Regions from separate parts of the Homo sapiens genome. Here regions 1 and 2 are each linked to region 3. Evidence: fine-mapped expression QTL. A gene starts in region 3. Each other region holds a variant in brackets. All regions are shown on one strand. Distances are from middle to middle.

Evidence for each region. PIP is the estimated chance that this variant, and not a neighbour inherited with it, causes the effect.
Region 1: its variant is fine-mapped to the expression of DDX18 in tibial artery (GTEx, PIP 0.93).
Region 2: its variant is fine-mapped to the expression of DDX18 in blood mononuclear cells (TOPMed, PIP above 0.99). The same link has a PIP of 0.9 or more in hypothalamus.

Annotation. Positions count from the first base shown.
Region 1 is chr2:117,849,583-117,852,347 of GRCh38, forward strand. No RefSeq gene overlaps it. Among named protein-coding and RNA genes, the nearest start is that of DDX18, 36 kb to the left of the region's middle. The variant C/T (reference allele first, on the strand shown) is at 1,611.
Region 2 is chr2:117,841,564-117,844,328 of GRCh38, forward strand. LOC107985939 (a long non-coding RNA gene) reads left to right here. Exons shown (of 7, transcript NR_158150.1): 7 at 1-93. Among named protein-coding and RNA genes, the nearest start is that of DDX18, 28 kb to the left of the region's middle. The variant T/C (reference allele first, on the strand shown) is at 1,745.
Region 3 is chr2:117,813,146-117,815,910 of GRCh38, forward strand. It overlaps DDX18 (DEAD-box helicase 18), which reads left to right and starts at 1,546. Exons shown (of 14, transcript NM_006773.4): 1 at 1,546-1,717. The coding sequence starts at 1,633. RefSeq lists enhancers at 1,308-1,602, 1,330-1,867, 1,413-1,542, 1,673-1,722, 1,743-1,792 and 1 more.

The sequences.
Region 1 (2,765 bases), 36 kb after region 3:
ATCACAGCACGTGAAGTAAGATAGTGAGTGAGGGGTTTTTCTTAGAATCTATACTTAAACTCATGCATTTTTCAAAATATTTCATGCTTTTCTCTAAAACCTTATAGCTATCATTCACTGACAAGCAATGCATGGGTAAGATATTTCTTTATGGCCCTCTATTGTCATCCTATTAATCTAGACATTAAACTTATAAGTATCATCTTGTCTTGATTTATTTTTCTAATCTATACTTTTCTCAATGATGTGTTTCCTAATTGACATTTCCAAATTACGAGCCTTGGGGTTCTTTTAATCATTTTGGTTTTTAAGCACTTTTTTATTTTGCTTCTCCGAAGTTAGTTAGAAATTGCAACTACTGGTTATTCCAGGGCTGATGGTTCAGTTACAGGCTCTGGGGCTAAATCCCCTGGTCCTGGCTACCCTGAACTTCACGCAGCTCTGAGTAGGGGAGTAAATTAGCCTGCAGGGGGAATGTGGGTAATTCTCGACCTCATTACAGCCCTCCTTTCCAATTTCGCCTTCCTACGAGCAGCTTAAAATGCAGAAGAGATCAGCTGAGACACACACTCTCCTCCACGTGCTCCCTCTCCCTCCCCACCTGATCCTGCTTCTATCCCCTCACCCCTCCTGATGAGGGAGGGAGGAGAGCACAACAGGTGGAAAGATGAGCCAGTGAGAATTTCAAACCCAGCGGAGTCCCCGCCCATGGGATGTGACCTGTTTGTACAGGATTCTTGCAGTTATTGGGTGGTCTTTATTATCATTGTTGACTCTGGGAAACTTTTCATTCTTGACCCAGAGTCTTCATTAGAGATCTTTTCATGAGAAAAAGGGCATTTTTAAGAGCTGAGGTTTGAATGCATGGAAATTTTTAAAAACTACCTTTGGTCATGTGAAAAGAAAGCAGCTGGCAGGTGGTGGGGGAAGGAGCCCATCTGCTAATTAAAACTCCAAGAGTAGTAGGAGGAACAACTACTCTAAGGCACTATCTTTCCCCACGTTCCTGCAAACAAATTAGCTTCAACACCCACACACAGTAGGAAAACAAATGCCAATTATGCCTCGATGTTTCCTTGAACCTGTTTTCTTTTCCCTGTCTCCAACTGATCCTTAACACTGCTTTGATAGTGGGCTGGAGATAAGCCCATTGCTTATCTGGAGAAATGATTTCCACCCACTTTTATTCTAAAGCAAATCCGCAGCACTGAGGAGGCTGGGACCAACATCAAGCCCAGATCCGTTTCCACACATAGAGCAAAACTCTTCATTTTGGTTGAGTACCAACAATAGTAGTTTATAACATAGGAAAGGAGTGTGCCTTTAATTATTGTATTTCAGTGTAAAACATAATCAGAGGTTAAAACAGTTTTATGAAGGCAGATAACATTATGGCATATATTAATGTATAGAGGATGCACATCCATTTATTTCCAACTGCAGATATAATGGGGTACCTGACTGGGACTAGATCAAATGATTTTGGCTTTATTCTTGGTTGCTTCCCAGTTTTGGCAAGTACGCAATTATGAATAAATATGCTACAAACAACGATGTGCAGGATTTTTTGTGTATATAACTTTATTTTCTCCATATGATTTTCTAAAATC[C/T]TGGTGGAGACAAGCAGTGGGTGAGGAAGAAAGATGGCTAAAGTTGCAGGCACTTTTTCAGTTTCTCTGGAGGCAGAGGTCTGAATTTCACCTGTGATGTCAAGCAATTTCTTTGTCTAAGCCTTTTGGTAATGCCAAAGTAAAGCAGCAATCCCTTCTGGAACAGAGAGGTTTAGGAGCAACAAGGAGGGAAACAGGGCTGCTTGGCCCCATAAAAGAGCATTTCCCTATATGTGGCAGGCTTCTCTGTTCATCACATTCCCTTTAGGGGAAAAAAATTTCTCTAAATGTGGATTTAGACTATCCCTAAAAAAATTTTGCTTGTTTCCCAGAGGGGTGTGTGTGTGTGCATGTGTGTTGGTGTGTGCACACCGACTTTCTTGTTCAGGAACTCACCCGTCTGTGTGGTTAGGAGCAGAATGAAGCTATGAAGGGAGCAGGAAGGATGAGGTGGCATGTCTTCATGACATGCTCTCTTTTTTAAACTTCACACCAGGTATCCTGGCAGATTTAATAACTCTGACCTCAGGAAAGTTCCCTCTTTTGGGGGTTTTGCACTGTTTAGGTGAGGAGAAGGACTAAGGCAAGGCCTTAGAAGGATCCTTTGTTTCTGATGGGAGTAGACATTCTGGGTACCAGATACCCTGGAGATGGGCTGGAATGTGAGGTCTGAGGAGTTGAGTCTCAAACTTGAAGGTGGAGAGAAATCCTCAAGGACCTTTGTGTTGAGATGTTTAACCCTTCCAATATTGGTCATTTGGAACAGCCATATCCAGTGTCTGGCGGTTTTCTCTGATTCCTTGTGAAAAACATTGATTATCACATAGAGCACTAAGGCAAGGGCTGTGCCAGTGCTGCAGACCTTTCTCTGGGAAACCACAGGAGGGAAACCTGGCAGGACTAACACTTCCTGGTTGAACGGGATGTTTAAGAGAGGAAATGCCTGCTAGAGACATCTGAATTATCTAGATCAATGGTTCTCAACTGGGTTGATTCTGCTCCCAGGAGATAACTGGTGGGGTCGGTGGTGGCTACTGGCATCCAGGGAGTAAAGAACAAAGAAGCTGCTAAACATCCTACCACATACTTGATAGCACCCACCCCACCCCCAACAAAGAATTATTCAGCCCAAAATCTCCATAGTGCTTAGGTTGA
Region 2 (2,765 bases), 28 kb after region 3:
TTCTAATCTGTCATGGACAGAGCAATGTACCTGCCTTTGTTTGTTTTCCTTAATTCTTTCAAGTGCCTTTGGGTAATAAATGGTTGCGTACTCAGGTTTTTAGTCCAAATTTTTTTTCTTCAACTCTAGGTAATTGCTTTACTTGCCAGAATAGGTTACCATAGCAATATTTTCTGAGCAATAGGTGAACTGAATTGTACTATTGAGGAAGCCCAGGAGAAAAATACTAATAACAACCTGAGAAAGTCTAATCACTTTATGGAGCCTCAGGGCTGTGAAGAGGGGGATAAGACGGACTCCCTGGGTGATTAGGAAGTGCTGCTGCCAGCTCACACAGGACGCAATGTGAGAAGCCACCCATGGTCCCCAAATTCCCCCATCTCCTGATATCCAAGTCCCCCATCCAAGCTGCTTAAATGACAAAAGACAAATGTAAACTGGGGAAACATTTGAAATGCATATCAAAAAGGGGTATTTCACAAAGCTCTCCAACAGGAGGCCTAGGAAGATGGTAACAGCGATACCAGAATAATGTTTGGATCTTCCAGAGTGCCCATGTGAAAACAGAGCAACCAAACTGAAAAGCCATGGACAACAAAAGTCGGTGACAAAGTGTCACCTTGAATCCTGAAATACAAGTAAGTGGAATTGCTGGTCGTAATTCTACGATTAGCTTATTAAGAAACTGCCAGCTTTGCACAGCAGCTGCACCATTATTTATTACATTTCATGAGAGCTGCAAGTTTTTTGCCTCCTTGCTAACACTTGTTATTTATATTTTTCATTTTTCTTATAGCCATCCTGGTGGGTATAAAATAATATCTCATTATGGTTTTGATTACATTTTCCTAATGACTCATATCACTTAGCATCTTTTTAGGTGTTTGTTGGCCATTTGTATATCTTCTTTAGAGAAATATCTTTTCAGATCCTTTGCCCTTTTAAAAATTGGGAAATTTAAATTGCTGAGTTGAAAAAGTTCTTCACATATGTTGGATACTAGACTCTTATCAAATATATAATTTGCAAATATTTTCTCCCATTCTGTGGGTTGTCTTCACTTTCTTAGTAGTGCACAACTTGTCAACTTGTCCTTTGATGCACAAGTTTCAAATTTTGACAAGCCCAATTTATCCATTGTTTTCTTTTGTTGCTTGTGCCTTCGGTGTCATAGTTAAGAAACCAGTGCACAAGCTACTGCTCTGAAGAGTTTCCTCTATGTTGTCTCCTAAGAGTTTTATATTTTTAGCTCTTAACTTTCAGTCTTTGATAGATTTTGAGTTAATGTTTGCATTAGGTATGAGATAAGGATTCAACATCTTTCTTTTACATGCGGATGTTCCAGAACAATTTGTTGAAGAGAGTGTTCCTTTTCCCATAGAATGGTCTTGGCACTGTTCAAAAATCAATTGACCATTGATATATGAATTTATTTATGAACTCTCAATTCTGTTCCATTGGTGTATATGTGTATCCTGATGCCAGAACCACACTTTTTTGATTACTGTAGCTTTGCAGTCAGTTTTGATCCTGTGAATTATGAGTCATTCAACTTTATTCTTTTCTCAAAATTGTTTTGGCTATTCCAGGTTCTTGAGATTCCATATAAATTTTAGGACTGAGTTTTCTATTTCTGAAAAAAAAAGGCTGTTGTGATTTTGATATGGATTGCATTAAATCTATAGATTGCTTTGAGAAGTAATGATACCTTAATAATATAATGTTGTCTTTCAATGTATGAATA[T/C]GGCATGTCTTTTCATTTATTTAGTTCTTTTAAAATTTCTTTCAGTGATGTTTTTTAGTTTTCATTTACCAGCTTTGCAACTTTTTGGTTAAATTCATTCCTATGTATTTTATACTTTTTAATGGTATTGTAAGTAGAATTGTTTCTTAGTTTTATTTTGAATCATTCATTGTTTGTGTATAGAAATACAACTCATTTTTAAGTGTGGATCTTGTATCCTGCAACTTTGTTGAATTAATTAGCTCTAACAATTTTTTGTGGATTCCTTAGGGTTTTCTATATATAATATCATGTCATCTGCAAATATAGTTTTACTTCTTTCTTCCCAATTTGGATGCCTTTTATTTCTATTTCTTGCTTAATTGCTGTGGCTAGAACTATGCTTAACCGAACTGGCAAAAGTGGGCATCCTGGTCTTCTTCCTAGTCTTAGAGAGAAAGCTTTCAGTCTTTCACCATTGCATATTATGTCAGCTCTGGCTTTCCATATACGATGATGGTCCTGTATCATGTTGAGGAAGGTCCCCCCAACATTTTTTTTTTCTTTTTTTCTTTTCTTTTTTTTTTTTTTGAGACAGTCTCACTCTGTCACCCAGGCTGGGGTGCAGTGGTGTGACCTTGGCTCACTGCAACCTCCACCTCCCAGGTTCAAGCGATTCTCGTGCCTCAGCCTCCCAAGTAGCTGGGATTACAGGCATGGGCCACCATACCTGGCTAATTTTTGTATTTTTAGTAGAGACAGGGTTTTGCCATGTTGGCCAGGCTGGTCTCAAACTCCTGGGCTCAAGCAATCCGCCCACCTCAGCCTCCCAAAGTGCTGAGATTATGAGCCATCACCATACCCAACTGGAAGTTCCCTTTTAATCCTAGTTTCTTGGATATTTTGTCTTCAACTGATGTTGAAATTGTCAAATGCTTTTTCTACATGCAAGTACAACTTGTTTTATTTTATTTTTTTATTTTTTTTGGAGACAGAGTCTCGCTCTGTCACCCAGGCTGGAGTGCAGTGGTGCGATCTCAGC
Region 3 (2,765 bases):
TATCTATTTCAAAGTCACAGACCCAAAACTCACACATGTAATCAGGTAAATATATATGTATGTACATAGAGCTATAGAAATAGATACATATGTGTATATGCATATATATACTGATATATGCATAAATTTAAACTGGCATATATATTTACACTGAGATAAATGTTTGCGTGTGTGTGTGCGCTCTTACATTTCTGAATCATTCTTCAGCCTGCCTGATCATTAACAAATTAATCTAAGCACATTATTATTTGTTTGTCTTAGTTTTCCAGTCCAATCCAATGTGATTTCGAAGTCAATTCCTTCACATTCTGTTTAAACTCCCTCCCAAGTTTTCTCCCTCTCTGTTCCTCACTATGATCAGGTCTAATCTCCAGGGTCTCATGTTCTGCCCCTCCAAGTAAACAAATTAATCCAGGTTTCATGGACTCTTCCAGTTGTTCAGCTCAAATTGATTACTGTTAAGGGGAATTTGAGGGCATTGGGCCAATTTTTAAAGACAAATATGAATTTTTATGGAAATCTCCAAGTATTTTAATGTTGATAACAATTTTTTTAAAAATTAAATACTATATGCATACCCCTGTCTTCCTCCCCATCCCAAAAAAGAGATGACTATTAGCTAGCCACATTGCAATTTCTGTCCTGGACTGCTGAAGGGTCCTTGGGTATACTTAAGGAATATATAAACCTCTTTTTCAAACTGCAGTCAACCTATTATTAATGTAGTAAAGTTAATTTAAATTCATAGGAATCAGTATTTTTAGTAAGCTAAAAAGAATAATTTAGGATGGAATGAATGGAATTGAAGGAAAAAGAGTGAAAAGCAAGAATATTATTTTGAGAAATGTTATATTTATGTGTGTATGTGTACCAAGTGACACAGAAATTGTATTTCTGAGGAGAGTGGCCAAACAAGTTTGGAAATGCATATATATAATTTAGTTCTATTCAGTTTCCCAAATACAGTTGTCCCTCAGTATCCACAAGGGATTGAGTCCAGGACCCTCTATGGGTACCAATATCTTAGGATACTCAAAACCCTTATATACAATAGTGTAATATTTGCATTTATTTTACACACAACATCCTGTATACTTTAAATCATTTCTAAATGACTTATAATACCTTATACAACCTAAATGCTATGAAAGTAGTTATCACACTGTATTATTTTTAATTGTTTTTTTTTTAATGTTTTCAATGGGGGAGTTGGTTGAATCCACAGACAGGGAATTCAGGTACAGGGAGGGCCAACTCTAGTTCTGCACCCACAGAGGATAGGAACATAAAAATGCGGACTCCCTAAGGCCTCCTTCCCCTCCACGTTCTTTCTTCAGTCTTCCTCTAGGGGGAGCTCAAGTTAGCTTTAGCACAGTGTGAAGCCAGTGCAGCGTCTCGCTTCCACTTCTCCAGGGGGCGCTGCAAAGATTTTGGTCGCCAAAGATATCACGGTGCGCGCGTCTGGAAGCATTTCCGCTCTGGAGCATTTTCGTTCCGCCGGGTGCCAGCGTTCCTGTGACGCGTTTCCTGTTGGCCGAGCTGCGCACGTGCGGCCGGAAGGGAAGTAACGTCAGCCTGAGAACTGAGTAGCTGTACTGTGTGGCGCCTTATTCTAGGCACTTGTTGGGCAGAATGTCACACCTGCCGATGAAACTCCTGCGTAAGAAGATCGAGAAGCGGAACCTCAAATTGCGGCAGCGGAACCTAAAGTTTCAGGGTGAGATGCGTTGACTCGCGGTGGCTCAGAAGACCCACGCGCGAGCCCTGGCGCGTTCGGGCGGCCGGGGGCCCAGCTGCTCTGTGTGACGGAGGCAGCTTCCCCTGCAGCGTGTGTGATTGGGGAGAGTGAAAAGGCAGCTTCCACTCGGGACCCGCGCTGCTGCCCACTCGTCGCGTGGCTCCAGCGCTGCTCCTGACCTTTCTGAGCAATCAGTGTCTTCTTACAACGTTAGAGCGGGAGGACTCCCCGTTCACTTCTAGGCTTACGACTAACCCTGCCTTTTGCATTTCCACCTTAGCTTTTGGTTCCCTCACCACCTGCAAGTCGCACCTCACCTCATCCCTCATTTCCGGTTATGCTGCATGAAACGTCTCATTTCCACCCACTTTTCACATCTATTTAATTCCCGTATTTCTTTCCCCAAAAGCCCGTCTGGCTGTTTCCACAGAGCTTCTTTGATACTATTGCCTTCCTCTACCCACTTCCACACGTTCTCGTAGCACTTTCTCACCAGAGCTTCTACGTATTTGTGTCCCGCACAGTGACCTAAATGAAAAGGATTTTATCTGAATGTCACCTTTCTTACCTACCTCATTTGCAGTCCCAGTGTCCTGACAGTGGGGCCACAGATCTTGAAGTAATTGTGTTAACCTGTTGTCCAGGTTAAGATACAAACTCCCCGAGGGAAAGTTTGGAGGCACAGTGCCTTGCCCCAGTTGGTTTTCAACAGACATTAATTGAAAAAAAATTCTGCAGGAGGCAATAGGTTTGTGAATTTTAGGAATATGTTTTGAAATACTCTTGTATTTCTAATTCCTATAGAATAATACTACAGCATTACTACTTTTCAGCGCATATGTAAGTAAATTTGAACAAAAGATGGTGTTTTATCTTTTTCAGTAAACAAACAGGGAACCTTTGGTAAGGACATTCTCAGGTACAGTCATGCATCGCATAACAGGAGGGGGGATACATTGTGAGAAATGTGTCATTAGGGGCTTTTGTCGTTTTGCGAACTTTATCTAGTTACACAAACCTAAATCTA